Linked DNA regions of Homo sapiens. The protein of the gene in region 1 interacts with the protein of each later gene in a pairwise test. Each region holds a gene or a part of one and is shown in the gene's direction. Other genes may lie near its edges.

The links.
Region 2: the proteins of XAF1 (region 1) and TRIM54 interact in binary tests that used the Homo sapiens proteins (3 or more experiments, as listed by UniProt).
Region 3: the proteins of XAF1 (region 1) and LRSAM1 interact in binary tests that used the Homo sapiens proteins (3 or more experiments, as listed by UniProt).
Region 4: the proteins of XAF1 (region 1) and TRIM50 interact in binary tests that used the Homo sapiens proteins (3 or more experiments, as listed by UniProt).

Annotation. Positions count from the first base shown.
Region 1 is NC_000017.11:6,765,343-6,773,467, forward strand, and holds part of XAF1 (XIAP-associated factor 1), read left to right. Parts: intron 1-2,009; exon of another isoform or gene 2,010-2,111; intron 2,112-5,300; coding exon 5,301-5,642; coding exon of another isoform or gene 5,643-5,699; exon of another isoform or gene 5,700-7,007; intron 7,008-7,770; coding exon 7,771-7,827; 3' UTR 7,828-8,125. UniProt on the Homo sapiens protein: Seems to function as a negative regulator of members of the IAP (inhibitor of apoptosis protein) family. Inhibits anti-caspase activity of BIRC4. Induces cleavage and inactivation of BIRC4 independent of caspase activation.
Region 2 is NC_000002.12:27,298,761-27,306,885, forward strand, and holds part of TRIM54 (tripartite motif-containing protein 54), read left to right. Parts: intron 1-484; coding exon 485-656; intron 657-769; coding exon of another isoform or gene 770-895; intron 896-6,198; coding exon 6,199-6,294; intron 6,295-6,823; coding exon 6,824-7,057; intron 7,058-7,319; coding exon 7,320-7,342; intron 7,343-7,452; coding exon 7,453-7,577; intron 7,578-7,695; coding exon 7,696-7,781; 3' UTR 7,782-7,782; exon of another isoform or gene 7,783-7,808; intron 7,809-8,125. UniProt on the Homo sapiens protein: May bind and stabilize microtubules during myotubes formation.
Region 3 is NC_000009.12:127,489,510-127,496,509, forward strand, and holds part of LRSAM1 (E3 ubiquitin-protein ligase LRSAM1), read left to right. Parts: coding exon 1-9; intron 10-1,705; coding exon 1,706-1,786; intron 1,787-3,292; coding exon 3,293-3,388; intron 3,389-5,810; coding exon 5,811-5,909; intron 5,910-6,454; coding exon 6,455-6,586; intron 6,587-7,000.
Region 4 is NC_000007.14:73,317,560-73,325,684, reverse strand, and holds part of TRIM50 (E3 ubiquitin-protein ligase TRIM50), read left to right. Parts: intron 1-109; exon of another isoform or gene 110-220; intron 221-879; 5' UTR 880-897; coding exon 898-1,296; intron 1,297-5,442; coding exon 5,443-5,538; intron 5,539-6,610; exon of another isoform or gene 6,611-6,632; coding exon 6,633-6,863; intron 6,864-6,975; coding exon 6,976-6,998; intron 6,999-8,125. UniProt on the Homo sapiens protein: E3 ubiquitin-protein ligase that ubiquitinates Beclin-1/BECN1 in a 'Lys-63'-dependent manner enhancing its binding to ULK1. In turn, promotes starvation-induced autophagy activation.

The DNA of each region.
Region 1 (8,125 bases):
GCGGAGCTTGCAGTGAGCCGAGATCACGCCACTACACTGCAGCCTGGGCGACAGAGCGAGACTCCATCTCAAAAAATAGATAAATAAATAAAAATTTAAAAATTTTTTAAAAAGCCATATGTAGTCAGACACTTCCAAATTTATATCTCAGTCTGGGTTTTTCTCCCCAAACTCTAGATTTGTATATTACTATTTACTGCATCTTCACTTGAATGCTTGATAGACATCTTAAATGTAACACATCTGAAATGGAATCCTCTCTGCCACAGCTTGGCCCATCTCAGTTGATGGCAACTCTATCTTTCCAGTTGTTCAGGCCAAAATCTCAGGTTCACTCTCGACTTCTCTTTCCCTCCGCATTGCTACCCTGGTATGAACCATCATCTTCTCTAGCCCAGATGCTGCAGCAGTCTCCTAAACGGTCTTCCTACTTCTCACCTTGCCCCCTACAGTCTATTCTCATCACAGAGGTCAACGTGATCCCTTAAAAATACAAGTCAGATTGTTTGGCTCCTCTGTTCAGATCTCTGTACTGATTCTTGCCCCATTTTATGCAAACTCAAAACTACAGTGGCTTTAGAGATCTATGTCATCTTTGCCTCCCTTCTTATCTCATCACCTCTTTGATCTCATGTACTACTCCTGTTCAGCTCACTGGCCTCCTGATTGTTTCTTGAGCATACCATGCCTTAGGGCCTTTTCACTGGCTACTGCCTCTGGCTGGAAGCTACCTCCTCACCTTCCCCACCCTACTCCAGGAGCTAACTCTCTCACTTCTCTCAAGTCTTTGCCCAGATGGCACCTTCTCAAGGAGATGTACCACAACAACCTATTTAAAATTGCAACTCCCTCTCCATCACATATTTACCAACCCCTTACCTTCTTCTATTATTTTTTCCATAGCATTTGCCAACTTCTAACATATTATCTAATTTACTTACTTATTATGGCCCTTGTTAATTGTCTCCCACGACCTCAGAAAAACTATAAGCCCCACTGGTCCCCTTCATGCTAACTACTCCCCAGACACAAATACTCTACTTTTGCTTTTAGCTGTTTCTTCTGGTAATCACCTTCATATGTCTAAAGCACCTTCTTATATTTTTTCCAGTTTTAGATATTACTTATTGACTCATAAGGATTTAGGAATATAGATTTCACTTTTTTATACCACCCATCCCACACACACACCTCCAAAGTTCTTCATTTCATCCTTCCAATGTATTGATTTCACTCATTCTGGTTAAATAAATATTCAGTATTACATTAGTATAACCATGTAAACATTATAAATGGTTTTCCACATGAATTGTGATTATGTGTTCTTTCTCCTACAACTTTTTGTTTTACCTGGACTTAATAATTGCTTCGGTTTTTCATTTGCTTCACTTTCTAGGTACCTATCACTAAATCATCCCTAAAATTCTCTACCAGATCTGAAAATTCCCCTGAGTACAACTACACACATCAGATAGTCTGTCCATTTCATTTTGGGAGCATGTTATGCCCCAGGCTTGATGATTAGCTGTTGGTCTGGAATTTCTTCCACTCTCTCCACGGTTGGAGTTCTGATTCCCAAATCTCAGGTCTCATCTTTCTCTTTCTTAGGTTACTCCTTGTTTGATAGAACATATCCCCAAATAGTTTCTTGAGAAAGAAAGCATGAGAGGCAAATTTTTTAGGCCTTATATGTCTGAAAATGAAAGCTTGGGTGGCTATAGAATCTATTGACCATCTTAATCTGTTTATTAAAAATCTTATTACAATTCTGATTTGGCCACTACACACTGTATACATGTATTAGAAAATCATTCTGTATTCTATAAGTATGTATCATTATTACTTGTCCACTAAAAATAAAAGAAATAAAATTGATTACAAAAACTTTCAAATAAATATGACAGTAGAAAGTTAATACAATAAACATTCATGTATTTACTCCCCAGATACAACAGTTGTTGTTCTAAACAAGGTGAATAAAAATAAATCTACTCTTAGATACATTACAGGTAAAAGGCAAAGGTTGATTTCTTTGAAATCAGCCGAAGAAGATTACAAGCAAAGGAATGGCAGTTAGGCTGAAAGCAAATATATCGACAGCAATAATAGAAGTGGGTATGCAGTGGAATAATCTTCAAAGTGCTAAGAGAAAATAGCTGTTAACACGTGGAAATCAAAAGTTTTCCAGGCTTGAACTATACTTTGTTTGTTTTCTTTTTTCTAAAGTATGTTAAAGCAAATCCAAGATATCCTGTTATTTCACCATCATTCTTTAATATCTCAAAAATACAGTCATTTTCTTAATCACAATGCCTTTATCACTCTCAATGATGTTAACAATAATTTTCCCCCATCGTTTTGGGGCCTTGCATTTACCACTCTTGTTCATTACTACTGCTGCTGCTGCTGCTGCTGCTGCTGCTTGCTTCTCCCTTGTATTCTATTGGATTGAGCAAGATTTCTTTATTCTCTTTCTTCTTTCCTACTGATTCGTCAATTTTACATTTATTTCTATCATTTCAATAGTTACCCTTAACATTTTAATATAAATACTTGACTTAATAAAGTCTAAAGTTAGTCATTATCTCTACTTTCCTTACAAATAGTATATAGATTTGAGAACATGTTAACACTGTAACTATCTTACATGAAAATGCTGCCAGAATTTTGTTTCATTTTGCTTTCATACTACCCCTCTTTACTGATTATTGTTGTTATTTATGTAACTCATGCCTGTTTAGATATACTCACATGTTTTTGTTTTTGCTTTTTTTCTTTCTTTCTTTCTTTTTTTTTTTGAGACAAAAGTCTCACTCTGTTGCCTGGGCTTGAGTGCAGTGGCACGATCTTGGCTCACTGCAGCCTTCGCCTCCTGGGTTCAAGCAGTTCTCCTGCCTCAGCCTCTCAAGTAGCTGGTACTACAGGTGTGTGCCACCACGTCTGGCTAATTTTTGTATTTTTAGTAGAGATGGGCTTTTCCATGTTGGCCAAGCTGGTCTTGAACTCCTGACCTCACATAATCTGCCCACCTCGGCCTCCCAAAGTGCTAGGATTACAGGCATGAGCTACTGTGCCCGGCTGGATATACTCACAAGTTTACCCTTCTCTTTACTCACATTCTTCCTTGGATCCTAAGCTTTCCTTCTGGGTATGATTTCTCTCTTCCTGAAATACATCTCAGTAGCTTCTTCACCAAGAACCTTGAGTAGTAAATCTTTAGTTGCCTGAAAATAAGCTTTTTGTTTTTTGCATCCATGAATGATAGTTTAGCTGGATATCAAAATCTAGATTAACAGCTATTTTCTCTTATCATTTTGAAGATTATTCCACTGCCATCCCACTTCTGTTATTGCTGTTGATGTATTTTCTTCCAGCCTAATTGCCATTCCTTTGTACGTAATCTTTATATTTGGTTGATTTCAAGATCCTCTTTGCCTTTTACCTGTAACGTGTTTAAGAGTAGTTTTATTTTTATTCATTCTGTTCAGAACAATGTACTCAAATGTGTTTGCTTTTCTCCTGCTCAGGATTTCTCTTTCCTTAATATAAAGATTTATGTCACTAATCAGGCCTGAAAATTCTCATCTATTATCTCTTTGAATTCCCAACATTCCCCAACTCTCCCACATTCTCTCAACTCTCCTTCTGGAACATAACACATGTATATTAAGCATTCTCATTCTAGCTTCATGACTCTCTTTTTTTTCATGACTCTCCTTTTTTTTCATTTCTCTCTTTTAATCGCCTTATGTCTCTTAACCTTTCATATTTTCTCTATTTCTATCTCTTATATTCTGGGTAATTTCCTGAAATTATCTCCAAGTTCATTCATTCTTTCTTGGCCAAATCTAATTTTCTGTTTTTAGCCCATCCATTTAGGTTCAATACCTGCATTTTTCATGTCTAGAAGTTCAATTTATCTTTCTTTCAAATTTGCCTATTTTTGTTCTCACTACAAAAAAAAGATAGGTATGTGAAGTGATTGATATGTTAATTAACTTGATTTAATCATCCCACAATGTATATATATATTAAAATATCACATTGTACCCCATAAATATATAAAGTTATTATTTGTTAATTACAAATTAGAAAATTTCAAATTTACCTGTTCTGTTTTTCATGAGATGTTATTCTTTTCCCAGATTTAATCATTTTTAATTAATTTATTTTACAGTCTCTATCCTATAGTTGCATTACCTGAACTTCTTGGAGGCTAATCTGACTACTTTTGTGTCTGTGACTCTTACTCAAGGTGGATTGCTTCCTTGTGTGTTTGTAATTTTGGATTGTGAGTTTCTATCTGGTGGGACTCTACCTATGAGGATCCTCTATGACCTATTTTGAGGCTGTTGTCCCTCCAGAGGAATTTTGTGATTGCTTCTGCCAGACATCTCAATGTTTATGTTAATTCTTCTGCTCAGGGATTCCCAGACCATGAGGCCAAAGTAAATCCTAATCCCACACACAGGAATGGCATGGACCTGTGATTTTGAGTTTTCAGGGGCATAAGTTTTCATCTCCACACTCAAATACCGACCCAAGAAAGAAAAGCTTCCTTGCCACTTTCCTTTTCTCATTAGCTGATACTTTTCCTCTTACCCACCATAATTTATCCTTTAAAGTTTCCAGCTTTATGCAGGATCAATAGAGTCTTACTTCCAAATCCCCACCTGTGTGGATGGGACTTTCCTGTCATCCAAGCCCCTAGTTACAAAGTTGACCCTACATCTCCCATAAGCAGTGTCAACTCCTGTGCTTAACCAGTCCATTTGTGCTGCTATAACAGGATGCCACAGACAGAGTAATAATAAAGAACACAAATTTATTTCGAACAGTTCTGAAGACTGGGAAGTTCAAGATCAAGGCACCACCATTTGGTGTCTGGTGAGGGCCTTCTTGCTGCCTCCTAGCATGGTAGAAAGCAAAAGAGTAGAAGGCTGTAGCCAAATACTTCATGAATCCTCTTTTATAAGGACCCTAATCTCATTAAAAAGGGAGGACCTTTCATGATCTAATCACCCCCGAAGGCCCCACCTCTTAATACCATCACATTGGCAGCACCTGAATTTTGGAGGAGACACATTCAAACCATAGCAACCAGTCAGACCTTCATTCCTGGAATGCAAAATTTTCTTTCTTTCCTGCAAAGCCAGCTATTAAATTGAATGTCTGTCACATTTTATACACCATATAAAAGTGTTTACAGTGGGAATTTCTTGTGTTATCTAGTCTACTGTATTTTCTGACCATTAAAGCTGAAGTCATTTTAAAATTTGATATATTATTCACAATTGCAGGGTAAATGTTGTCCAGACTCAGAGTTTAAGAAACACTTTCCTGTTGGAAATCCAGAAATTCTTCCTTCATCTCTTCCAAGTCAAGCTGCTGAAAATCAAACTTCCACGATGGAGAAAGATGTTCGTCCAAAGACAAGAAGTATAAACAGATTTCCTCTTCATTCTGAAAGTTCATCAAAGAAAGCACCAAGAAGCAAAAACAAAACCTTGGATCCACTTTTGATGTCAGAGCCCAAGCCCAGGACCAGCTCCCCTAGAGGAGATAAAGCAGCCTATGACATTCTGAGGAGATGTTCTCAGTGTGGCATCCTGCTTCCCCTGCCGATCCTAAATCAACATCAGGTACTCAGCCTCTGTTCTCTGCTTACCTTTCTGGGAACCATCCGCACAGTGTCTTAAAAAAATCCAAGACCTGAAAGATGTTCACAAATGTTGTGGCTGAAAAGGCCGTTTTCTCTGACTCCCACTTCTCTGGGTGCCCAAATGCACTATCTCGTAGCACTTACCACCTGGTTTATTTGCATCACCTCCGAGAGACTGAGTCACCTTTGACTCAAGCCAGGTCTTTGAAGGTAGAGCCAGGTCCCTCTTCTCTGTGTCTCCAGCTTCTAGGCCAGGGATTGATTTGGAGCAACTGCTTCAAAACTGTTGAGTAAATGAATGAATCAGAGGATACCCAGTCTATCTCTCTCATGGTGTAGATATGGCACTGAGGCCCAGAGATGAGATGTCTTGGTCAAGATCCTAAGCCAGTTGGTGGTGGCTTACCTCCAGCAGATCAAGGTTTGCTTCAAGAAGATCAGGGTTTGTAGGCATCTCCCTGAATATCATGATTTTTATGTCCTAGGTTATTTTCTAGTAATAATAATAACTGGCATTAGAGGTTGTTAACCATTGTGTGCCAGTTACAATACAGAGCTCTTTATAATCTTCATCATAAACAATAGGCATGCATTTTATCTCCATTTTACAGATAAGGTGAAGTAGCTTTCCAAGGAGTATACAATTAGAAGGTGGCAGGATCCAGCCTGAGTCCACATGTATATAGCTCCAAAGTTTATGCTCTTAAGCTCCAGATTAAATGCCTTACTTAAAAAATTTATTTTTTTTCAAAATACATAAGTACTAGATTTTGTTGGAGCTAGTTGATATAATATCATATAAAGAAGTATAAAAGCAAAGCTAACCCTAATTCCCCAACCCCATACCCTGAGATACCACTTTGGACAGTCTTATGGGCATCTTTTCAAAGCTCTACCTTTGCATATACAAGCCTAAACAAGCATATACTGGGTTTTACTTGTTTCTTTTTCCACACATATTATCTTACTATACTTTTTACTCTGCCACATGCCTTTTTCACTTAGTATATGATGCATGCTTCTTACAAAAGACTTAGTATGCCAAAACCTTTTTTTCTAACTTCCTTGTGCATCTATGTATGCACATAAGCATATAATTTTACAAAAATGGGTTCATTTCATATTTGCTGGGGGTGTTACTAGTGCCATTTTTCCTTGCCTCCCACAATTTGGTATATTTCCTTTCACAGTTTTCTCCATCCTTATATAACAGAGTCGCCAGATTTAGCAAATAAAAATACAGGACATTCAGTCAAATTTGAATTTCAGAGAAACAAAGAATTGTTTTTAGTGTAGGTATATTCCATGCAATGATTGTTTTGCTAAAATTAAAATTTAACCAGGACACCCTGTATTTTATTTAGCAATTTCTTATATAACCACCATACAAACATACACATTTGGAGTCCTGTTATATACATTTTTTCACTTTTTTTTTTTTGAACCAGTAAAGCTGCCATCTTTTTTTTTTTTTTTTTTTTTTTGAGACAGAGTCTCGCTCTGTCACCCAGGCTGGAATGCAGTGGTGGGATCTCGGCTCACTGCGATCTCTGCCTCCCGGGTTCAAGCGATTCTCCTGCCTCAGCCTCCTGAGTAGCTGGGAGTACAGGCACCCGCCACCACACCCAGCTAATTTTTGCATTTTAGTACAGATGGGGTTTCACCATGTTGTCCATGCTGGTCTTGAAATCCTGACCTCAGGTGATCCACCCGCTTCAGACTCCCAAAGTGCTGGAATTATAGGGCATGAGCCACCACGCCCAGCAACATTTCTTTACATCCTAATGTAAATTCAGCAATACCCAAGGAAATCCCTACAAACAAAACAGTGTGGCTTATTTTTATTAATGGCTGCCTAAGATTCCATGGTGTGAGTGTTCTCCCATCTGTCCCTCCACCCAGTGATAGCAACAGGCCCCTGTTAAACTTTGTCGCAAGCCTCCTATACTTCTGGCTCAGTGGGCTCCTGACCTTTTCTATGCCATTACACTCCAGTCTTTGGGCAGGGCTCATGCTCTGTAACAAGGGACAGCAATATCCAGAGATATTCTAGGAGCTAGCACTTCTTACTTTAACCATATCAAACTTTTTTTATATCCATTTCTTAGGAGAAATGCCGGTGGTTAGCTTCATCAAAAGGAAAACAAGTGAGAAATTTCAGCTAGATTTGGAAAAGGAAAGGTACTACAAATTCAAAAGATTTCACTTTTAACACTGGCATTCCTGCCTACTTGCTGTGGTGGTCTTGTGAAAGGTGATGGGTTTTATTCGTTGGGCTTTAAAAGAAAAGGTTTGGCAGAACTAAAAACAAAACTCACGTATCATCTCAATAGATACAGAAAAGGCTTTTGATAAAATTCAACTTGACTTCATGTTAAAAACCCTCAACAAACCAGGCGTCGAAGGAACATACCTCAAAATAATAAGAGCCATCTATGACAAAACCACAGCCAACATCATACT
Region 2 (8,125 bases), on another chromosome or scaffold:
CCTCTCTCATGACAGGGCTTGGGACACAGCCAAGGAACCCATCAGAGCCAAAAGGGAGAGATTGAAACGGTCAACCTGCCTGTTCTGTCTAGAGACCATAGGACTGGATCCGGAGAGGGACTTGCCTCAGGCCTCCCAGAGAGGGCAGTCTCTGATTCCCTAGCCAGTACTTCACTCCTACCCTCTCCTCCTGGGAGAGGCTGGCAGTCCACCAGCAAGATCCTCGCTAACCCTCCAAGACTTCCTGTCCTGTGGGACTTCCCTGCCCCCTTGTAATACAGACTGTTCTCGGATCCAGGCCTCCTCTATCTCTTAGCTCCTTCTGTTCCCCAAATTCAGAGCTCTGTGGAAGTACTCACCAGTTCAGCCACAGCACTAGCTGCAGGGGCGGAGAAGGTGGTGGCAGTTGGTGGAGGCTGAAGAGAAGGTATTCCTAGGACCCTTCATGCTTAAGGTCCACCTCCCCCTGCCCACTCCTCTCTAGGCCGCTGCACTCCAAGGCTGAGCAGCACCTCATGTGCGAGGAGCATGAAGAAGAGAAGATCAATATTTACTGCCTGAGCTGTGAGGTGCCCACCTGCTCTCTCTGCAAGGTCTTCGGTGCCCACAAGGACTGTGAGGTGGCCCCACTGCCCACCATTTACAAACGCCAGAAGGTATCAAACAGGGGAGGGAGTAGATATGTGAGAGATGGGGGCTTAGGACAGGGTCTCAGTGTCAGCCTCTTACTCCACTTATCTTTTGTTTACTTATTTCTTTATTTATTTAGAAACAGGATCTCACTCTGTTGCCCAGGCTGGAGTGCAGTGGCACAAACACAACTTACTGCAGCCTTGATCTCCCGAGCTCAAGTGATCCTCCCATCTTAGCCTCGCAGAACACTAAGATTATAGATGTGAGCCACCGCACTCAGCCCTATCTATCTATCTATCTATCTATCTATCTATCTATCTATCATATTTTGAGATGGAGTCTCGCTCTGTCGCCCAGGCTGGAGTGCAGTGGTGCAGTCTTGGCTCACAGCAACCTCAGCCTCCCGGGTTCAAGCTGTTCTTATGCCTCAGCCTTCCAAGTACCTGGGATTACAGGCATGTGCCACCACACCCAGCTTTTTTGTTTTTTGGTTTTTTTTTGACTCCTGGCCTCATGTGATCCGTCCACCTTGGCCTCCCAGAGTGCTGGAATTACAGGTGTGAGCCACTGCGCCCAGCTCCATTTATTTATTTTTTAAGAGATGTGGGGATCTCTGTCGCGCAGGCTGGAATGCACTGGTATGATTGTGATTCACTGCAGCAGCCTTGAACTCCTGGGCTCAAGTGATCCCTACCACCTCAATCTCCCAAGTAGCTGGAACTACAGGCATGTGCCACCATGACCAGCTAATTATTTTATTTTATTTATTTATTTATTTGTTTATTTATTTATTTTGAGATGGAGTTTTGCTCTTGTTGCCCAGGCTGGAGTGCAATGGCACGATCTCGGCTCACTGTAACCTCTGCCTCGCAGGTTCAAGCAATTCTCCTGCCTCAGCCTCCAGAGTAGCTGGGATTATAGGCGCCTACCACCATGTCCAGCTAATTTTTTGTATTTTTAGTAGAGACGGGGCTTCACCATGTTGGCCAGGCTGGTCTGGAACTCCTGACCTCAGGTGATCCACCCACCTTGGCCTCCCAAATGCTGGGATTACAGGCGTGAGCCCCTGCGCCCGAACCTAATTTTTTATTTTTACATAGAGACAGGGTCTCAGGCAGGGCACAGTGACTCACACTTGTAATCCTTTGGGAGGATACTACTAATAATAATATTTATTAGTAGTAGTAGTACTAATAATAATATTTATTAGTAGTAGTAGTACTAATAATACTTTAGAAGAGCGAGGCAGGGGGATTGTTTGAGTCCAGGAATTTGAGACCAGCCTGAGCTGTGTAACATAGTGAGACCCTTGTCTCTACAAAAAATTAGCTGGGCATGGTGGCATGCCTGTAGTCCCAGCTACTCGGGAGGCTGAGGTGGGAGGATCACTTGAGCCCGGGAGGTTGAGGCTGCAGTGAGCCATGATTGCACCACGGCACTCCAGCCTGGGTGATAGAGTGAGACCTTGTCTCAAAAACAAACATACAATATTAAAAAGAGACAAGATCTCACTGTGTTGCCCAGGCTTGTTTTGAATTCCTGGGCTCAAGCCATCCTCCTGCCTCTGTTAGAGGAAAGAGGTCTTGACACAGACCCCAAGACAGGGTTATTGGATCTCGCGCAAGAAAGAATTCAGGGCTAGTCCATAGAGTAAAGTGAAAGCAAGTTTATTAGGAAAGTAAAGGAATAAGACAATGGCCACTCCATAGACAGAGCAGCCCCTAGGGCTGCTGGTTGCCCTCTTTTTTTTTTTTTTTTTTTTTTAGATGGAGTTTCGCTCTTGTCGCCCAGGCTGGAATGCAATGGCGCGATCTCAGCTCACTACAACCTCCGCCTCCCAGATTCAAGCGATTCTCCTGCCACAGCCTCCCAAGTATCTGGGATTACAGGCATCCGCCACCATGACTGGCTAATTTTTGTATTTTTAATAGAGACAGGGTTTCACCATGTTGGCCAGGCTGGTCTCAAACTCCTGAACTCAGGTGATCCACTCTCCTTGGCCTCCCAAAGTGCTGGGATTATAGGTGTGAGCTACCGGGTCCAGCCTGGTTGCCCATTTTTGTGGTTATTTCTTGATGATATGCTAAACAAGAGGTAGATTATTCATGCCTTCCCTTTTTAGAACATATACGGTCACTTGCTGACATTGCCATGGCATTAGTAAACTGTCATGGAGCTAATGGGAGTGTAGCAGTGAGGACCACCAGAGGTCGCTCTCATTGGCGTCTTGGTTTTGGTGGGTTTTGGCCGGCTTCCTTACTGCAACCTGTTTTATCAGCAAGGTCTGTATGACCTGTATCTTGTGCCGACCTCCTATCTCATCCTATGACTTAGAATGCCTTAACCATCTGGGAATGCAGCCCAGTAGGTCTCAGCCTCATTTTACCCAGCCCCTATTCAAGATGGAGTTGCTCTGGTTCAAACGCCCCTGACACCTCAGCCTCCCAAAGCGTTACTCCACTTAGTTTTAAAGTCAAGCAGGCCGGGCGGTGGCTCACACCTGCAATCATAGCACTTTAAGAGGCCGAGGCGGGCGGATCACCTGCGATCAGGAGTTCGAGACCAGCCTGACCAATATAATGAAACCCTGTCTCTACTAAAAATACAAAAATTAGCCAGGTGTGGTGGCATGTGCCTGTAATCCCAGCTACTTGGGAGGCTGAGACAGGAGAATCGCTTGAACCCGGGAGGCGGAGGTTGCAGTGAGCTGAGATTGCGCTATTGCATTCCAGCCTGGGCAACAAGAGCAAAACTCCATCCAAAAATAAATAAATAGGCCAGGCGCGGTGGCTCACGCCTGTAATCCCAGTACTTTGGGAGGCCAAAGTGGGTGGATCACGAGGTCAGGAGATCGGGACCATCCTGGCTAACACGGTGAAACCCCATTTCTACTAAAAATACAAAAAACTTAGCCGGGCGTGGTGGCAGGCGCCTGTAGTCCCAGCTACTCGGGAGGCTGAGGCAGAATTGTTTACCTGGGAGGCAGAGCTTGCAGTGAGCCAAGATCGGGCCGCTGCACTCCAGCCTGGGCGACAGAGCGAGACTCCGTCTAAAAATAATAATAATAATAATACCTAAAATAAAATAAGTAAATAAAAATAAAATCAAGCAGATTAAGCCAGGCGTGGTGGCTCATGCCTGTAATCCCAGCACTTTGGGAGGCCAAGGTGAACGGATCACTTAAGGTCAGGAGTTCCAAACCAGCCTGGCCAACATGGTGAAACCCTTTCTCTACTAAAAATACAAAATTAGCTGGGCATGGTGGCAGTCGCCTGTAATCCCAGCTACTCGGGAGGCTGAGGCAGGAGAATCACTTGAACTCCAGAGGCGGAGGTTACAGTGAGCTGAGATTGCGCCATTGCACTCCAGCCTGGGCAAAAAGAGTGAAACTCTGTCTCGAAAATAAAATAAAAGTCAAGCAGATTGGAGTCAAAGTCCTAGCTCTGTGCTTGACTTGGTGTGTCACCTAGGTATGTTACTGGACCTTTGTGGCCCTCACTTTCCTCATGTGTAAAATTAGGGTGAAAATGCCTACTTGTGAAAGTAGCTATAAGGATAAAATTCGATAATGGATGAAAGCAGAGACTTCAGTATGGTGGGTGAGATACTTGCAGGGTCCTCTCTATCACACAACTAGATTCTGTGTAAAACAGAATTTTCAAATTATATTGCTTGGTACATAGAAGCAAAGGAAATCAGTGGGGGTGGGGAGGGGCGAAGAGAAAAGGCGGAGCTGAAAGCAGAACCCTGAGTGGCAAGCACAGAAAAGGCAGCATTTCGCAGAGGACCAGTGCTGGCAATGTCACTGAGCTAGAGAGACCAGACTATTCCTCCAAACCCCTAAAAGGAGGGGTACCTGCAGCTAAGATTCCAGAGACCCGGCTGGGCGCAGTGGCTCACGCCTGTAATCTCAACACTTTGGGAGGCCGAGGCGGGCGGATCACTAGGTCAGGAGTTTGAGACCTGGCCAACATGGTGAAATCCCGTCTCTACTAAAGATACAAAAAATTAGCCGGGCGTGGTTGCAGGCCCTGTAATCCCAGCTACTCGGGAAGCTGAGGCAGGAGAATCGCTTGAACCCAGGAGGCGGAGGTTGCAGTGAGCTGAGATCACGTCATTGCACTCCAGCCTGGGCAACAGGGAGAGACTCCGTCTAAAAAAAAAAAAAAGTTTCCGGAGACCGTAGGTTAAACTAGGATCCTAGGAGCTAAAGCAGTAAATTGCGCCACCTGGCTTTCAACAGAGGCAAATGCAAATACTGCCTAGAGGAAAATATGCACAATTTAGGCCCGTAGGTATTCCCTAGATTAATTAATATCAATAAAATATTAGATCACAATTGAAGGTGCACAGAGAAACGTAATCCATGAGTGAAGTCAGCAGAAACAAAAAATACAGATTTAGGACCCCCCACAAAAGCAACTGAGATATTGGAATTATTAAATAATTGGAAGTCACTATAAATCAAATGCTTTTTAAAAAAAGATGAAAAATTTTAAAAACCAAACAATAATAGAATATCAAAAACCAACCATGTAGCTGGGTGTGGTGGCTCACGCCGGTAATCCCGACACTTTGGGAGGCTGAGGTGGGAGGATCACTTGAGTCCAGGAGTTGGAGACCAACCTGGGGAAATGTTGAAACCCCGTCTACAAAAAAATATAAAAAATTAGCCGGACGTGGTGTCATGCGCCTGTAGTCCCAGCTACCTGGGAGGCTGAGGTGGGAGGATCACCTGAGCCTGGAAGGTCGAGGCTGCAGTGAACTGAGATCGAGCCACTGCACTCCAGCCTTGGTGACAGAGTGAGACCTTGTCTCAAATATATATATATAGATAGATAGATAGATAGATAGATATAGATATACAGATATATATATATATATAGATAGATAGATATAAAACATTCAACAGATGGCTGGGCATGGTGGCTGGAACCTGTAAACCCAGTGACTAGGGAGGCTGAGGCAGGAGGACAAGGCCTGGTGTTCGAGACCAGCCTGGGTGACAGAGCAAGACTCCGTCTCAAAAAAAATTTAAAAAAAAATCAACGAATGAATTGAATGATAGATTTGTCTGAAAACAGAACTAGTGACCAGTATGAGAGGACTGAAAGAAAAACAGAACGTGCAGTTCTGGGAGATGATGAGAAGGCTGAGAGTGAGAAGGTCTAACAGGTCTAATCAGATTCCCAGAATGAGAGGATAAAGAGAATAGAGAAGAGGCAATATTATGCCAATGGATAATCTTGAAGACTTTCTCAGAATCGATGCAAGAAATGAATCTACAGATAAAGTATCTAGCCCAGTGTCTGGTATCTGGTGGATGTTTGGAGACTGTCTGTTCCTTCCCCACTTAGTGGTGGAGGGCTTCTCTCCACCTCCTTCCAGAATCACTAGAATGTGCTTCCGTACCTCTTGATGGTTCAAGCCTTCTAGATTGCTGTAGATGCCCTTATGGGGGGTGAGGTGGAAGGGCCAGCCCTCTCCTAGGCAACCCTGGCTGGGGTGAGGGGTGTAGCTCTAGGCCAGGTCCCAGCTCTGAGTGCTGACCTGTGTGTGTATCAGAGTGAGCTCAGCGATGGCATCGCGATGCTGGTGGCAGGCAATGACCGCGTGCAAGCAGTGATCACACAGATGGAGGAGGTGTGCCAGACTATCGAGGTGAGCCTGGGCTGGAGGGAGGGAGGAACAGCAACTGGCTAGCCTGCGGACCCCGGGCTCCCAAGAGAACTGCTCCTCTCTGACCTCTCGCCAAACTGGTCTGAAAGTTTCTGGGGTCCTGGGAGTGGTGGGAGGTGCTTTTGCCAGGCTGCTGGGTGTGCATTCCAGCTTTGCCGCAAAACTTTAATCCAGTTATTTAACTTCTCTGTGCTTTGGTTTTGTTTAACCTCATAAAACAGTGATGATGATAATGATACACCAGCTACCTCATGGGTTCTTTTTGAGAATTAAATGGAATAATGCAAATAAAAACCAGGGCTAGGGATATAGACAGCAATCAGTGAAGCTACTTTAAAGCATTGTGTTTTTATTATGGAAAAGATCTGGGCTGGGTTCTGGCTCAGCCACTAACTCACAGTGTCACTACGGATGGGTCACTTTCTGTGTTGGTTCTCTGTGAGTACCCTGTGCTTTCCCAGCCACCGGGTCTCAGCCACGCCTTCCCTCATCCTTGCTCCCCATCTTTTAGGACAATAGCCGGAGGCAGAAGCAGTTGTTAAACCAGAGGTTTGAGAGCCTGTGCGCAGTGCTGGAGGAGCGCAAGGGTGAGCTGCTGCAGGCGCTGGCCCGGGAGCAAGAGGAGAAGCTGCAGCGCGTCCGCGGCCTCATCCGTCAGTATGGCGACCACCTGGAGGCCTCCTCTAAGCTGGTGGAGTCTGCCATCCAGTCCATGGAAGAGCCACAAATGGCGCTGTATCTCCAGGTGGGCTCTAGGGGAGGGTGGCAGCGCTGCACAGTGGCTGGAGTCAGGGCCTTGGTACCTGGAGTCCCGGGTTCAAGTCTTGTCTCTTGCACCTGCTTGCCCCTACGACCTTGGGCAAGTCACCCCCTCTGAGTTCGTTTTCTGCTTAACGAATTGGGACGTGCCTTCCCACCTACCCCGCAGGACTGTGGTGAGATTCAGAAATGGGACTTTGCCCAGGTTGGCCCAGTGCTTACTCTCACCCTCCTTTTCTTCCCTGCAGCAGGCCAAGGAGCTGATCAATAAGTGAGTAGGCATAGCGGGAAGGGAAAGGAGGGGGCTGCACTGCTCCACTGGCTGGGGTGGGGCTTGAGAGTGCTGGGGCATTGCCAGCTGAGTCCGTGTGGCCACTGCAGGGTCGGGGCCATGTCGAAGGTGGAGCTGGCAGGGCGGCCGGAGCCAGGCTATGAGAGCATGGAGCAATTCACCGTAAGGGTGGAGCACGTGGCCGAAATGCTGCGGACCATCGACTTCCAGCCAGGTGAAGGAGGTGGCCGAGGGCCGCTGAGACGGGTTCGGACCCTCTGTGTGGGGGGTGCGGCGGGCACGATGGCCGTAAAGGCAGGGACTCCACCTCACCAGGCCTTCCTTGGGCTCAGGCGCTTCCGGGGAGGAAGAGGAGGTGGCCCCAGACGGAGAGGAGGGCAGCGCGGGGCCGGAGGAAGAGCGGCCGGATGGGCCTTAAGGTGAGAGCCGCCCGATGGGCCTTAAGGTGAGAGCGGCCTGAGGGGCTTGGGGTGGGGCCTGGCTGGTGTGCTCGCGTCCCCTCCCCCAGTGATTGCCCTCCCTGCGGGTAGCGTGGAGCCCCCACTCCTCGGTGCAACCCAACCCCGGAGCCACAAAGGCGCGCCCCCTAGGGCGGAAAAGTACACTTTCCTCCTCACCCGCTGTTCCTCTGGGGTGCTGGGAGGGCAGGCAAGGCAGGCTGAGTAGAGGAGAAACCCACGTGGCGGGGGACGGAGTGAGCGGGGCTCGAGCTGCCTCGTGCCTTCGCAGCACCCGCCCACCGAGCCTTCTTTCCCGGGCACA
Region 3 (7,000 bases), on another chromosome or scaffold:
AGGAGCCAGGTGAGCGCTGGGGCTGGGGTCCCTGGACCTGCTCTCTCAGAGACTTGCAGAGTGGCCCTCCAGGGCGGCAGGTCGCAGCAGTTGAGGTTTGAACCCCAGCTCCTTGGCTTGCTAGCCCAACAAGAGGTCGAGGCCTTGCCCTCAGAACCTCCCTTTGCTCCCAGCCTTGTGTCGGGGCTGCTGGGAGGGTGTCTAGAGACCTCCTATTCCGGGGTCTGGCGAGGGTCTTGCCAGCGAGGCGGGTCTCCACCACGCCTGGGCCAGGGAGGCTGGTGCTGATGTGTGGCTTTGACTGCTCCAGCTGCCTCTGCTGTCCCTGCTCCAGGCAGGACTTCCCCACTGGGAAAAGCAGCCGGCGCAGGCCCCAGCGCTCCTACAGCTCAGACAGACAGAGGCGTCTCAGGGGCATATAGTATTTCCCCCAGAAGAGGGCAGGGGGAGCTGTGAGCCACGGTGGTCCTGACGCCTGCTGAAAAGTGACCTCGGCCCAGGAGGAGGCGGTCCTCCTCTTAGACCCTCCCTCATGTGACAAGATACCCCCCACCCCCCGCAGGCCGGCTGCTGACCTTCAAGCCTTGGGCAAGCCCACCTACACGGCTTGGTGGTCACCGCCTGTGGAGTGGGGCTGGGGCTGGGGCTGAAGTGAGCGTCAGGCTATGGGAGTACTCCTGCATCATGTTCAGCACACTGAATTTTGCATTTTTGCATGGTTTTTTTCTTTCTCTATTTTTCTTTCTTTCTTTCTTTCTTTCTTTCTTTTTTTGGACCAATTTACCTTTTTAATTTCCCTCTTTAATTTCAATTCCACATTGCCGGACATGAAGCTCATTCCTCTGACCAGGGGTTGGTGGTGTCATAGGGACTTAGGGATGAGGGTCACAGGGTCATGGGCACAGGATAGAGAAGTACTGGCTATGGGGTCTGACCCCCACCCCTGCCCAGGGCTAAAATCCCCTAGACACACCCTGGAGAGCCTGTGAGGGCCCCCCACATTCTCACTGCAGATGGTTTTGACCAGGTCAGCTATTGCCCTTAAACCCTGAGCTGAGGCATCCCAGAGAAAGGGATCTCTCCCTTACCTGCTCTGTGTCCTTGAGCAAGTGAGAACCTCTCTGAGCCTCAGTTTTCTTGTCTATAAAATGGAGGCAATAATACCTCCTAGCAGCCAGAGAATTGATGAAATATGATACATCAAGTGTGCAGCACAGGCCTAGCACATAGTAGGTGCTCAAGACATACCAGCTACTACTACCACTGTTACTCAGTCACTTCCACTACCCTCTGCTCTCCCCTGCAACAGCGATGCGAGGGACAAGAGAACTTGACCAGCAGGAGACTGGGTGATAGCTCTGTCTGTGCTTTACTCTGGCCTGAATCCCCAAGGAAAGCCCCCTCTCCATTGCACAAGCCTTTATCCTGATCCCACTCTAGGAGAGATCCTGTGCTGGCCTCTTGGTAAACAATTTTGGCCACAACAAGCACGTCCATGCCCCAGGAACGCGAGGCCATGAAGGAACGAATTCTTGTTCAAGCCCCTTGACGAGGTTCCCAGGCCCGCAGGTTCCCCTCATTCCAGAGCCTCCCCAGCCTCCCCAGAAAGGCTTCTTAGACCCACTTGGTCACCAGAGAGTAGCAGCACAAAACTGAACTGTGGTTAATGTGAGTAAAAAAAAACCCTGTCTCGTCTTCTGTTTAGATTAAGTTAATAGAAACTGAGTTATTGCAGCTGACACAGCTGGAGTTAAAGAGGAAGTCCCTGGACACAGAGTCACTCCAGGTATGTAGGGCTCCCTGCCCCTGCCCTCCTTCACGTGGTGAGACCCCCACCTGGTGCTCCCTCCCAGCCTCTGGCAGCTGCTCACCAGCCCCTGGGAGTCAAGGGCTTCCCCAGCAGACAGAGGGCAGAGCTCCTCTGTGGCTGTGACACCAGAGGACACCCCCCAGCCCCAGAAGGCCCAGCGCAGGCCAAGGTTAGAGGTGGTCAGCCTGTTGCGAGGCAGGAGGGTCAGAGGAAGGAGGGTTTCATTGCCAAGGCTCCCCTGCTCATCTCCATCACTGTGTCTCCTGTGCTGGGTGCGGGCCCGCCGCTGAGCTCCTGTCTCTCTCTGTAGGCCGTGCTTTAGGCCCCCAGGCACACATCCTCCAGGGCTGGAGCTTTTGGGTGTCCCGGGTTGTCTGGAGGAGAGGGCCCAGCCGCATCTGTGTAACTCCCTGCAGGCAGCATCTCTGGGGCTCCAGCCCGGGAGTCCTGCGCACACAGATGAGAGGGCAGCAGGGACTGGCAGCTGGCGTCCTGGACTGGATGCCTGGGAGCCGGGTGTGGCCCAGCACAGCCCTGCTGTGCAACTTTGGCAGGTGGGGGAGGAGAGGCAGCCCTTTCCCCTCTCTGAACCTCAGCCTCTCCAGCTGCAGACGGAGGGCTGGATGGGATGGTGTGTGAGGACATGTGCCTGTGCCAGGAGTTTGAGCAGAGCCTTCGGTCTGTCACTGTCCCTGTGTCTGTTCTCAGTGGAGAAGTCTCAAGCCATCCCATGGACTCCTCAGTGCAGTGAAGGGTCTGGGATCTGGATCCCTGGTCTCAGGTGCACCGCAGGTGTGCTGTGTGCCCTTAGACAGGCCTCTGCCCCTCCAGGCCTTCTTCCCCTACTCCATAAGATGGCAGCGGTCCTCCAGGCCCAGCCTGTGCCATCAGGCCATCGGAGAAGGCTGAGCTAGCAAGGGAAAGCCCTTTGTGAGCCTTGAAATGATCTCCAGAGATGAGGGGACTGGGACTGCTCTCAGAGAAGCTGCGGTCATCATGCCTGGCGGGTGCCCTAGTCCCTGCCCACAAGTGTGGCAGGGCTCTGGCTGTTGGGGCCCCCATGGGGTTTCCAAGAGCAGGCGCAGGAGTGAAGCAGGGACCCCAGGCTCTGGTTTGCACGCACCTCCATTTGTGTGGGGCCCCACACTGCTCCCCGCCATTTGCTTCTGCCCATGTGCTCTGTTGTCTGGGAGACCAAAGGCAGGCACCTGTGGCTTGTCATTTCTTTTGTTTGATGTTTCTTACCATCCCATTGTCATCAGTCACCAGGATCCCATGCCTGACTTAACCCCACAAGGAAGAGAGATGCGGGCTTAGGGTAAGGGGGCAGAAGGGCCTCTTAGCTTTGTCCCCCAACGCAGCCTGGAGGCATTGGGCAGAGAACCGAGTGAGCGGGAGGCCAGGCCCTTCTCCATCCTGCCACTGCGGGACTCCTGCGCTGCCGCCAGCTCACGGTGGTGCGGGGTGTGGTCTTGTTCGCAGGAGATGATCTCGGAGCAGCGCTGGGCCCTCAGCTCCCTGCTCCAGCAGCTGCTCAAAGAGAAGCAGCAGCGAGAGGAAGAGCTCCGGGAAATCCTGGTATGTGTTTGGCTTCTGTGCTCAGCATCACACAGGCATTTGCTTTTCTTTAACAGACTTGCCATTTTTAGAAACACCTGTTATTCAAGTAAGAGTTATTCATCAAAGAAAAACTGGAAAGTACAAAGGAAAATAATTGCATTTCCAAGCGTTATCTCCTGCCATTTTTTATTTGTTTGTTTGAGACAGGGTCTCACTCTGTCGCCCAGGCTGGAGTGCAGTGGCGCAATCTCAGCTCACTGCAGCCTTGACTTCCTGGGCTCAAGCGATCCTCCCACCTCAGCTTCCCGAGTAGCTGGGACTACAGGCATGTGCCACCATGCCTGGCAAATTTTTTTATTTTTTGTAGAGATGGGGTTTCGCTATGTTGCCCAGGCTGGTCTCCAACTCCCGGGCTCAAACGATCTGTCTGCCTTGGCCTCCGAAAGTGCTGGTTTTACAGGCATGAGCCACCGCGCCTAGCCTCTCCTGCGGTTTTGATGCATATTTTCCAAACATTGTGATGCACCTTTATAGCTGTTCGTGTATGCGCCTTTTAAACGTGGCATGCTGCATACCCTTTTCGAGCAGCCTGTTTCCGCACATTCTTTTCAAGTCATTAAACTATTCCTTGACGTCCTTTCTCAAGGCTGTCCGTGGCCCCTATTGTTGAGTATGTGGATTACTTCTGGTTTTTAAACTTTTCTAGGCAATGCTCTCCGAATGCCTTTGTAGTCGAGTATTCGGGAACAGCCATGAGTATTCACTCCAGACAGGACTCACTATGTCCAGGGCAGGCCGTTTGATAAGCTTTTGGCAGGAGTGGCCCAGCTGTCCCTGTCCCCTGATGGGTTTGACACTGGCACATTTTCAGCGTGGCAGAGGCCCCCTTGAGAGTGTCTCCTCTAGACCCAGAGGGCACCCAAGCAATGAGGACAGAGGCCAGGCTCACCATCTGGGGTGGAAAAGACCGAGTCGTTCCTGTGTCCCCGTGAATGCACCAGATGCCCTCTGAGCTGCGTCCTAGGCCGGGTCCTGTGCAGGTTTAGAAGAGAGAGACCAGCTGCTTCTGGAGCCCTGAACAAGCCAAGTGGTGCCTGTGCCCATCAGAGGAAGCTGCCTGTTCCTCACGGTGCCCTACTGCCATCTCCTACGCATCAGGTTACTTTGCAGATGGTGCCTTGGCGCTGTGCCTTAGCAGCCAGGTACTATGGCTGGTGCCCCTGCCCTTGTAGGCCTTGGGGGTCACCACCAAAGGAGGAAGCACCGCCCCAGCAGAACACAGCCCATCCGGCTCCTGGGCGCTGGAAGAGAGGGGCTGCAGCCCGGGAGGGCCAACGACGGAAGGGAGCAGTGGGCGTGGCCAGGTCCAGGAGGGGCCCGCAAAGGGCAGTCAGGCCCAGCAGGGATTGAGAAACGCCTGTGTTGATCCCACTCCCCATGTCATGCCAGCCCTCACTGAACAGCTCCGTTGTTCTGAGCACGGGCTCTGGAGCAAGACAGGCCTGGGTCCAATTCCTGGCCCCACCCTGGGCAGGTTACTCATCACCCTGAACCTCAGCTCCCTCACCTGGGAGGTAGAATCTCCTTCCCGGAGTTGTGAGAATTAATGATGGCATCGTTAGGTGCACAGCATGGTCTGGCACATGGCACTGTGAACATGTCAGCTACGCCTGTTGTCACCGTGGCTGTTATCAGCATTGTTTGTTCACTGCTGTATTCCCAGCACCTAGAACAGTACTCAACGAAGAGTTATCGAATGGCAGAATAAAAGAATCACATTCAGGCTGGGTGCAGTGGCTCACGCCTGTAATCCCAGCACTTTGGGAGGCCGAGGTGGGCAGATCACTTGAGGTCAGGAGTTTGAGACCAGCCTGGCCAACGTGGTGAAAACCCCATCTGTACTAAAAATATAAAAATTAGCCGGGCATGGTGGCACACACCTGTAGTCCCAGCTACTCGGGCACTCCAGCCTGGGTGACAGAGCAAGAGTCCATCTCAAAAATAAAATAAAAGTACCAAGTGCTGTCCACCCGCTCAGAGGAGCATGGTTCATAACCATCATTTTGGTTTTGTTTTGTTTTGTTTTTTTGAGACGGAGTTTCGCTCTTGTTGCCCAGGCTGGAGTGCAGTGGCGCGATCTCAGCTCACTGCAACCTCTGCCTCCCGGGCTCAAGAGATTCTCCTGCCTCAGCCTCTCGAGTAGCTGGGATTACAGGCATGTGCCGCCATGCCTGGCTAGTTTTGTATTTTTAGTAGAGGTGGGGGGTTTCTCCATGTTGGTCAGGCTGGTCTTGAACTCCCGACCTCAGGTGATCTGCCCACCTTGGCCCCCCAAAGTGCTGGGATTACAGGCATGAGCCACCGCGCCTGGCAACCATCATTGTTATTACAGGTTTTATTACCATTTTGTGACTAACATTGCCTGCTTCATTCCTGGCAGACGGAGTTAGAAGCCAAAAGTGAAACCAGGCAGGAAAATTACTGGCTGATTCAGTATCAACGGCTTTTGAACCAGAAGCCCTTGTCCTTGAAGCTGCAAGTAAGGACTGCTGGTGCCTGTCCCGGCCAGGGAGCCCTGGGGACCTCCTCCCAGAGGCGCCTGTGGTGCCTCCACCATGCTCTGCCTCTTGTTACTTTTCTGGTGACTCTAGCATGCCAGATCCTGTGCCAAGCCCCAGTGGAGACAGAAGCGAGAGTAAGGGAGTGTTCATTCTGGTGAGGGGGACGACAAGGCACTGGTCACTGCTGTGCAGGGCAGAGACCACTGAGCCCACAGTAGAGCAAAGCCTGTGCCGGGAGCCACTGTCTGTCCAGCACCTGCGGGGACAGAGAGGCAGTTGAAACAGCCCCCTCTTGGTGGATGTTCAAGTTGCTTACTATTTTCAGGTTTGCAGACAGAGCGGCAGTGAACCCCTGGGCCTATCTATCTATCTATCTCTGTGTGCCTACCTATGAGTTTTTGTAGGAAAAATCCCGAGTACATTCTATGTATTATGTTATAAATATTCAAACCCTTCATTTCCTGTTGTAAACAGTGGGTTCTTTTCTTCCTTCCTGCTCATGGTACACGTTTCTGTCTTGCAGGAAGAGGGGATGGAGCGCCAGCTGGTGGCCCTCCTGGAGGAGCTGTCGGCTGAGCACTACCTGCCCATCTTTGCGCACCACCGCCTCTCACTGGACCTGCTGAGCCAAATGAGCCCAGGGGACCTGGCCAAGGTGGGCAGCAGCCGTCTGCATGGAGGGGAGGGGCACGCAAGGCCGCTGTCCTGACCAGCCGGGGGTTGATCTGCTCCTTGTGTAGTCCTCGTTGAGGCCTGTCCTTACCTAATGGCCCAGGGCCACCTTGCTTCCAGATGGCCAGAACACCTGCCCATCTGCCCCAGCCGCCTGTGTGTGCCCTGCACACTGTCTCACTGGGAAATCCTGGGGAGGTGGGTCCTGCTGACCTGATCAGACTGGATCTTCAGACTGGAGGGACAAGACAGGCCCTTGGGGCTTATCTGATCCAGCCTCTGCCCTGCCTCATGGTGTCACAAACTGTCGTGGCCACAGCACTGCCTGAGCCCCTGTTCCTTTCTGGGCACAAGCTGAGCTCTTTACAGCACATTAATCCACTTATTCTTCAAAACA
Region 4 (8,125 bases), on another chromosome or scaffold:
ATGTAACCCAGTTTCCACCTGATTCTGGTGACCTTGGGGACACAGGGGTGTTGCTGGGAAAGGGGAGGAGAGAAGGGGCAGAGACCAGGCAGTGGTGCAGGCGTCCAGCTGCATTTCCCACTTCTGACTCTGTGCCTGCTGTTCCCTGCTGGGAAGAAGGAAAGCCAGTGATGCTGGCTTGAGGCTGTAGTGGGAGGCCCAGCGGATTGTGAGAAGCCAGGTATTCCAATGTCGGGCTCCCCCGGGGGCTGCTGGTGCTGCTTCTGTCTCATTGACAAGCTTTCATAGGGGAGCAGGTGGGAGATCAGGGTAGAGGCCTTGTAGGTTCCAGGCTCTCTAGAATTACCTGGGAGTGTCACCTATAAGTGTAGAGTTCTGGGTCTCACTGGAGACCCCCTGAAGAAGATCCTTTGAAGGTGGGCCTCTAGAATCTCTATTACACCTATGCTTTCAACAGTTTCCCGAAAGTTTGGGAACTGATCTAGAAGGTGGGGAGCTTGCCTAGGTTTTGCTGTTCAGTTCTAGGTCCGGATGCATGCTGGGGCTGGACCTTGCATTATTAGTGTCACTGCAAATGACCCTGCAGATGGCCCCTTTCATGCTTGTCTCCAAATTTGAGTAAAAAATGTAGACACACACACACACACACACACACACACACACACACACATATCTTCAAGGGACCAGTTTTTTTCACTGCAGTCTTTTGTTTTACAGCTGCGGAAACTGGGGCCCAAGGTCATGTGGGTTAGGACTGGGATCCAGGACTCAAAGTGTTTCCTCTAAAATTCTGGTGCTCCTTAGGGTTGAGGGTGGTGGATGAGTGCTGGACAGGGGGAGGGGAGGGGACAGGACTGAGGTCGGATGCCTGTGTTTCAGCCCGGGCAGTGAGTGTGGATGGCTTGGCAGGTGAGCCTGCCAGAGCTGGAGGACCGGCTTCAGTGTCCCATCTGCCTGGAGGTCTTCAAGGAGCCCCTGATGCTGCAGTGTGGCCACTCTTACTGCAAGGGCTGCCTGGTTTCCCTGTCCTGCCACCTGGATGCCGAGCTGCGCTGCCCCGTGTGCCGGCAGGCGGTGGACGGCAGCAGCTCCCTGCCCAACGTCTCCCTGGCCAGGGTGATCGAAGCCCTGAGGCTCCCTGGGGACCCGGAGCCCAAGGTCTGCGTGCACCACCGGAACCCGCTCAGCCTTTTCTGCGAGAAGGACCAGGAGCTCATCTGTGGCCTCTGCGGTCTGCTGGGCTCCCACCAACACCACCCGGTCACGCCCGTCTCCACCGTCTACAGCCGCATGAAGGTGGGGAGTGAGGGTGCAGGGGCGGCTGGAGAGGCCCGCGGGGACCAGATCCTGTGCTCTCTGGTGCCATCACCTGGCACCAAAAGGATCCAGCTATCCTCGATTTCCCTGCAGCTGTGCCCTGGCGCATTCATTCCTTAGCGTTTGAGCTGCAGCTCAACCCAGGTGCCGGGGATTGAAGCCACACGAACAGGATGGGAGCTCCCTGGTGTCACGTGCTCACCCCTTCCTGTTTTTTTATTTGCAGTTCTGGTTTGTTCCTTTTTCTTTTCTTCCTTCTCCTTCCCTCTTCCCTCTTCCCTCTTCCTCTCCCTCTCCCTCTCTCCTTTCTTTTTTTTCTTTCTTTTTGGAGACAGCGTCTCACTCTGTTGCCCAGGCTGGAGTGCAGTGGTGTGATCATGGCTCACTGCAGCCTCCAACTCCTAGGCTGAAGCAATCCTCCCACCTCAGCCTCCCGAGCAGCTGGGGCTACAGGTGCACACCACCATGCCCAGCTCATTTTTCATATTTTGTAGAAATGGGGTCTTGTTATGTTGCCCAGGCTGGTGTTGAACTCCTTGGCCTCCAATGATCCTCCTGCCTGGGCCTCCCAAAGTGCTGGAATTATAGGCATGCACCACTGCCCTAGGCCCCTTGTTTGTGTCTGGACACTCCCCTGTTTGCACTCTATGGTGCATGAGGGTGGGGACTTCATTTTGTCCCCTGGTGTATTTCAGTGCCTGGAGCCATGCCTGGCACATTGTAAATGTCCAAAATGCTGAATCAGTGAATTCCTGCCTTTATAGGCCATCACCAAACCTAGCAGATCATTCTTTAAGACGAGTAATAATAATACCTGGCTGGCTGTTATATATATAAAACACCTGTTATAAAACACGTGACTGGGTGGCTTATGCCTATAATAACAGCACTTTGGGAGGCCGAGGTGGGTGGATCACTTGAGTCCAGGAGTTTGAGACCAGCCTGGGCAACATAGTGAGACCCTGCCTCTACAAAAGTTTCAAAATTAGCCTTGTTGGCCAGGCACAGTGGCCACTCCTGTAATCCCAGCATAAGGCTGGAGGGAACATCGGTGGGGGTGAGATAGGGCCAGCGAGGTAAGCTGCGGCTGGGGCATGGAGAGGCCAGTGTGACCCGGGAAGGGATTTGGAGTTTATTCACAGGATGAGGGAGCAAGGCGGAGGCTGGAGGGTTTTAAGCCAGTGATGAAATGCTCAGATCTCTCTGGCAGAGGGGAGCTTTGAGGGTGAGGCAAAAGGACAGTGAGAGATGAAGGTGCCAGGACCTAAGTCGATGGGAACTGGGACAAAGGCCTGGGGCAGACCAAAGACAAATTTCAAACAGAAAAAAACCCTGACAACTGTGTGTGGCAAGGAGGGTGAGGGACGGGAAGGTTGACTCCAGCTCTGTGATTCCCCCTTGCACAGAGGAAATGATCGCAGGGGAGGATCCGGCGTGGGCAGGTGGAGCCGGAGGTGCCTGGATATGTGCAGTCGGGTCGAGGGGTGTGCAGACCAGGACAGCGGTGGGGCTCAGGGCGAGAGGTGTGGAGGGTCCTTCCTCCTGGTGGTCACTGAAGTCCCCTTTGGTGGAGAAGACCAACCCAGGAGAGTCTACATAGTGATAAGGGAAGACACTGATGATGACCCCAAGGGGTACCAGGCTTAAAATCTGGATTGAGAGAGAGCCCTGAAAAAAGGGATAGAAAGAATCCTCAGAGCGGGAACACCAGCTGAGTGTGGCCTCCCGGAAATCAGAGAGACAGAGACTGAAGGAGATCACGTGTGTGAAATGTCTCTGAGGACTGAAAAGTGTTAGATGTAGCAGTAAGAACTGATTATCTTGGCAAGAGCAGGTTTAGGGGAGTATGGAAGGTGGAAGCTGACTGCAGGTGAGGAAGCCGAGTTTATGTTTTATTAGTTAATGGGAAGGAGGGAGGGAAACAGGCTGGGAGCTTATCTGTCCTTTGTGGTTAGGATCCAGCAGCCCAGCTTGGGTCCCTGTTTTAGATTTGGGCTTAATTTTGTTGTTGTTGTTGTTGAGACAGAGTCTCGCTCTGTCGCCCAGGCTGGAGCGCAGTGGTGCGATCTCGGCTCACTGCAAGCTCCGCCTCCCGGGTTCACGCCATTCTCCTGCCTCAGCCTCCCAAGTAGCTGGGACTACAGGCGCCCACCACCATGCCCGGCTAATTTTTTGTATTTTTAGTAGAGGCGGGGTTTCACCGTGTTAGCCAGGATGGTCTCGATCTCCTGACCTCGTGATCCACCCGCGTCAGCCTCCCAAAGAGTTGGGATTCCAGGTGTGAGCCACTGTACCCGGCCAGATTTGGGGTTTGATGATCCCGAGGCTCTTCTCTGTTGCAACACAGAATACAACTAAATTGCACTCCTTTATTGCCCTCTTTTAGGTGTTCCCGTTGCCTCCTGTTTATTGAGATTTTGAGATGCTCGATTGATGGGTGCATTGATTTGCATAACTTAGTTCCTCTCACGGGGAAGGAATGAGTCCCGTCTGTCTGCCTGGGGAGAGTGACATTGGAATGTCGTTCTTGGGCCGCTGTGAAATATTCTGATGCCTCGTTCTCCAGAGCAAGGACTCTGTCCGTTTATGCCAGCAAGTGCTTGATTCTTTACGCAACTCCCTTCCTGAAAGCCCCTTGCAGCTCTCTGGTGCTTGGGCACGATCCAAGCCAAAAATTCTGTATATTGCATGGGTACAAACCGACGGGGGCTCTGGTCAAATCGTGCAGTAGATGGTGGTCCAGGGGTCCCGGTTGGCACCCCCAAGGCTAGGTCAGGTTTGGGGCCCGGGCAGTCCAGGAGAAGTGCATTTATGTCAGCTTGGGGAGGTCGCAAATCCGTGCTGTGTCCAAGCCCACCAGGAATGGATTCAGGTGTTTATGGGTGTGGGGATTCACCAGGTTTAACCCAGGCCCGTGTGAGCACCACTGGCCCTAGAATTAGCCTCACCTGGCGCCGGCCTTTTTGTGATGGCTCCTGATTAAATACCCACTAATTCTGGATCTGCTGGTGACCACAGAGTTCACCTGATGGGTCCCCTACAGGCAGCATTCAATCCAGGAAGTGCCAGCATCACATGGTGACTTCTGGTAGCTGTAACGTTTAGTGACTCTCTCCATGTCATGCAGAGGGGTGACATTGAGACCCTCTTATGCCTGGGAAGTTCCTGCTGTCAATGCAGAATATTCTTTAAAAAAAAATTAGAGATGGGATCTCACTGTGTTGCCCAGGCTGGTCTCAAACTCCTATCCTCAAGTGATTCTCCCACCTTGGCCTCCTAAAATGCTGGGATTACAGGCACGAGCCATTGTGCCCAGCCTAGAATATTCCTTTTTTTTTTTTTTGAGACGGAGTTTCACTCTTGTTGCCCAGGCTGGAGTGCAATGGCGCGATCTTGGCTCACTACAACCTCTGCCTCCCAGGTTCAAGCAATTCTCCTGCCTCAGCCTCCCGAGTAGCTGGGATTACAGGCATGCACCACCACGCCTGGCTAATTTTGTATTTTTAGTAGAGACAGGGTTTCTCCATGTTGAGGCTGGTCTCGAATTCCTGACCTCAGGTGATCCACTCGCCTCGGCCTCCCAAAATGCTGGGAGTACAGGCGTGAGCCACTGCGCCCAGCCTAGAATATTCTTGAATTAATTTATCTTATTTTTTATTTTTATTTTTTTGAGACAGAGTCTCACTGTGTCACCCAGGCTGGAGTGCAGTGGCATGATCTTGGCTCACTGCAACCTCCACCTCCCAGATTCAAGCGATTCTCGTGCCTTAGCCTCCCAAGTAGCTGGGACTACAGGTGTATGCCACCACGCCTGGCTAATTTTTGTATTTTTAATAGAAATGGGGTTTCACTATGTTGGCCAGGCTAGTCTCGAACTCCTGACCTCAAGTGAAGTCCCACCTCAGTCTCCCAAAGTGCTGGAATTACAGGCGTGAGCTTCTGCGCCCAGACTATTCTCGAACAATTTAACCTGTTTTGGACTCAAGGGTACCTGGGTGGCTCTGGTTCCCGCCCTGGTTTCCCTGGGAGTGCTTGTGGCCATTGGGATACTCCCAAGAAGGTGATCCAAGGAGCTGAGAAGGGGAGGGATCAGCTGCTCATGGGGCCATGGCCTGTTGCCTCCAGGAGGAGCTCGCAGCCCTCATCTCTGAGCTGAAGCAGGAGCAGAAAAAGGTGGATGAGCTCATCGCCAAACTGGTGAACAACCGGACCCGAATCGTCGTGAGTGCCCCTTCCCTCTGCCCCTGCCTGGGACCGGCCACCTTCACTTTCCTGTAGAACTCAGTTCTCATTGGTCCTTTACAGAAAACCATGCCTTCCATATAAAGCCAGAACTCAAAGCATTCCCAGGGCGGGGTGGGGAAAGCGCAAATCCTCTCAGGGGAATTCAACCCAGTTGTCGTTAGGACTGGCTCCAAGTTGGCTTTTGCCCTCTGTGTCCTTGAGACTGAGATAACCCAGGACTTGAGTCTCAGGGGGTAAACAGCTCAAAGCATGGGCATGACTCCTCCGCCCCTGTGCCACCTGTGTCTGCTTGACCTTGCCAGCCTGTCATGGTGCCCTCCCAGTACCTGGGTGCTCAGGCGTGGAGAGGCTGGCAGCCCTGGGCCCTGGCTGATCTCCCGAAGTGAGAGGCACATGGGGCTGGGAGCCATAGTGCCCCGGCCCTGGAGGTGGCTGTGAAACAGAAACAGGAGCCGGGCAAGATCCAGGAGCACTCAGCCTCCCTCATTTACCCTCCTCACCCTTGCGCGGCAGGCGGTACCAGCCCTGCCTGGTGGAGGCGGAGCTCAGGGTTCTGCAGGGAGTTCTGGCTCCCTCACAGCAAAGCCTGCTCGCCTAGGGCCTTCCTGCTTTCCTTCAGTTGTGGAACTCTGGGATATGCACATTTAATAGCTGAAATAGGCAAAGTGGGGTGTGGTGGCGTGCATCTGTAATCCCAGCAACTCGGGAGGCTGAGGCGGGAGGATTGCTTGAGGCTGGGAGGTCAAGGCTACAGTGAGCTATGATCATGCCACTGTGCTCCAGCCTGGGCAACAGAGTGAGACCCTGTCTCTTAAAAAAAAAAATTAAAACAGGCCAAAACAGAGCCTCTCCATTTGAAACGGGAGCTGGGGTCACCCTCCCCACGGCCACCGCCAGGGCTCCCCATGCATGGGGTGAACTCCCTGCCCGGCGCCAGGCCATGCAGCCTCCCCTGAGACTCAGGTCCCAGGACCAACCCGGTCAGGAAGGCCCTGGGGACACCGAGGCCAGCCAGACAGAGCCTGGCAGCTCGGCTGTGACTCTGCAGTGACCAGCCCTCCCTGTCCCAGAATGAGTCGGATGTCTTCAGCTGGGTGATCCGCCGCGAGTTCCAGGAGCTGCACCACCTGGTGGATGAGGAGAAGGCCCGCTGCCTGGAGGGGATAGGGGGTCACACCCGTGGCCTGGTGGCCTCCCTGGACATGCAGCTGGAGCAGGCCCAGGGAACCCGGGAGCGGCTGGCCCAAGCCGAGTGTGTGCTGGAACAGTTCGGCAATGAGGACCACCACAAGTTCATCCGGGTGAGTGGACAGGGAGGCGTCCCATCCCCATACCCGCCAGGGCCTTCCCCTTCCCAACAGTGCCCTAGCTTCCCACCTTCTAGCCTTAACCTCCCTCTCTCTTGCCTTCCAGAAGTTCCACTCCATGGCCTCCAGGTAATAACCTTGGAGAGAGCTCAGCCAGGGTCTGGTGGCTGCGGGCACGGGCATCTCAGCTCCACTGGTTCCTCCATTCGGTTTAACCAGCGCCTCCCAAGCAGCTGCCCACAGCTGGCTCTATAACTGAGCCTGGGAAAAACAGAGGAAAGTCATGTCCCTGCCTTCAAGGGTCTCGTAGATGGGTGGGGAGGCAGATGGTGAACTGTGGGTACCTAGAACAGCAGAAGTTCACTCAAGCTACAGAAATACTAGAGGAGGGTAGCTCATGCCTGCAATCCCAGTACTTTGGGAAGCCAAGGCAGGAGGATTGCTTGAGGCCAGGAGTTCGAGACCAGCCTGGCCAATGTAGTAAGACCCCATCTCTACAAAAAATACAAAAATAAAAAAATTAGTTGGGCATGGTGTCATGTGCCTATAGTCCCCGCTACTCATGAGGCTGAGGCGGGAGGATTGCTTGAGCCCAGAAGTTTGATGCTGCAGTGAGTCGTGACCATGCTACTGCATGATCCAGCCTGGGTGACGGAGCGAGACCCTGTCTCAGAAAACAAAACAGAATGCTAGAGGAGGAGCAGGTGTCTGGGGGACCTGGCAGAGGGGCACAGGCCTGATGGCTGAGAAGGACCCAGGACCTGAGTTTGCCAGGCAAGCCGAGGAAACGGTCCTGTAAAAGGGGGAGTGGCATGTGGACTCTGGTTATGAGTTCAGGGTGGCTGGGTGTAAGGCAGGATATCACCAGGAGTCGGAGCTGGGAGAGGTGGGAAATGGCCAGAAGCAACATCCAGGAGCACCGGGCATCCCTTGCTTACCCTCCTCACCCTTGCGCAGCAGGCAGTATCAGCCCTGCCTGAAACTTGCTCTGCAGATTGTGGGAAGAGAGTGGATCCATGTTCTAGACCCAACAAACGAACACGTGCAGTTCCCAAGCCTTCCTCACTCCCTGTTTATGGGAGACTCCGTGTTTCTCACATTTCTTTTAGTCTTAGAGACAATTTGGTCAGAAGACATGGGTTTAAATGAAGGGACAGAGGCTGGGCATGGCGGCTTACACCTGTAATCCCAGCATTTTGGAAGGCTGAGGCAGAAGGATGCCTTCAGGTCAGGAGTTCGAGACCAGCCCAGCCAAC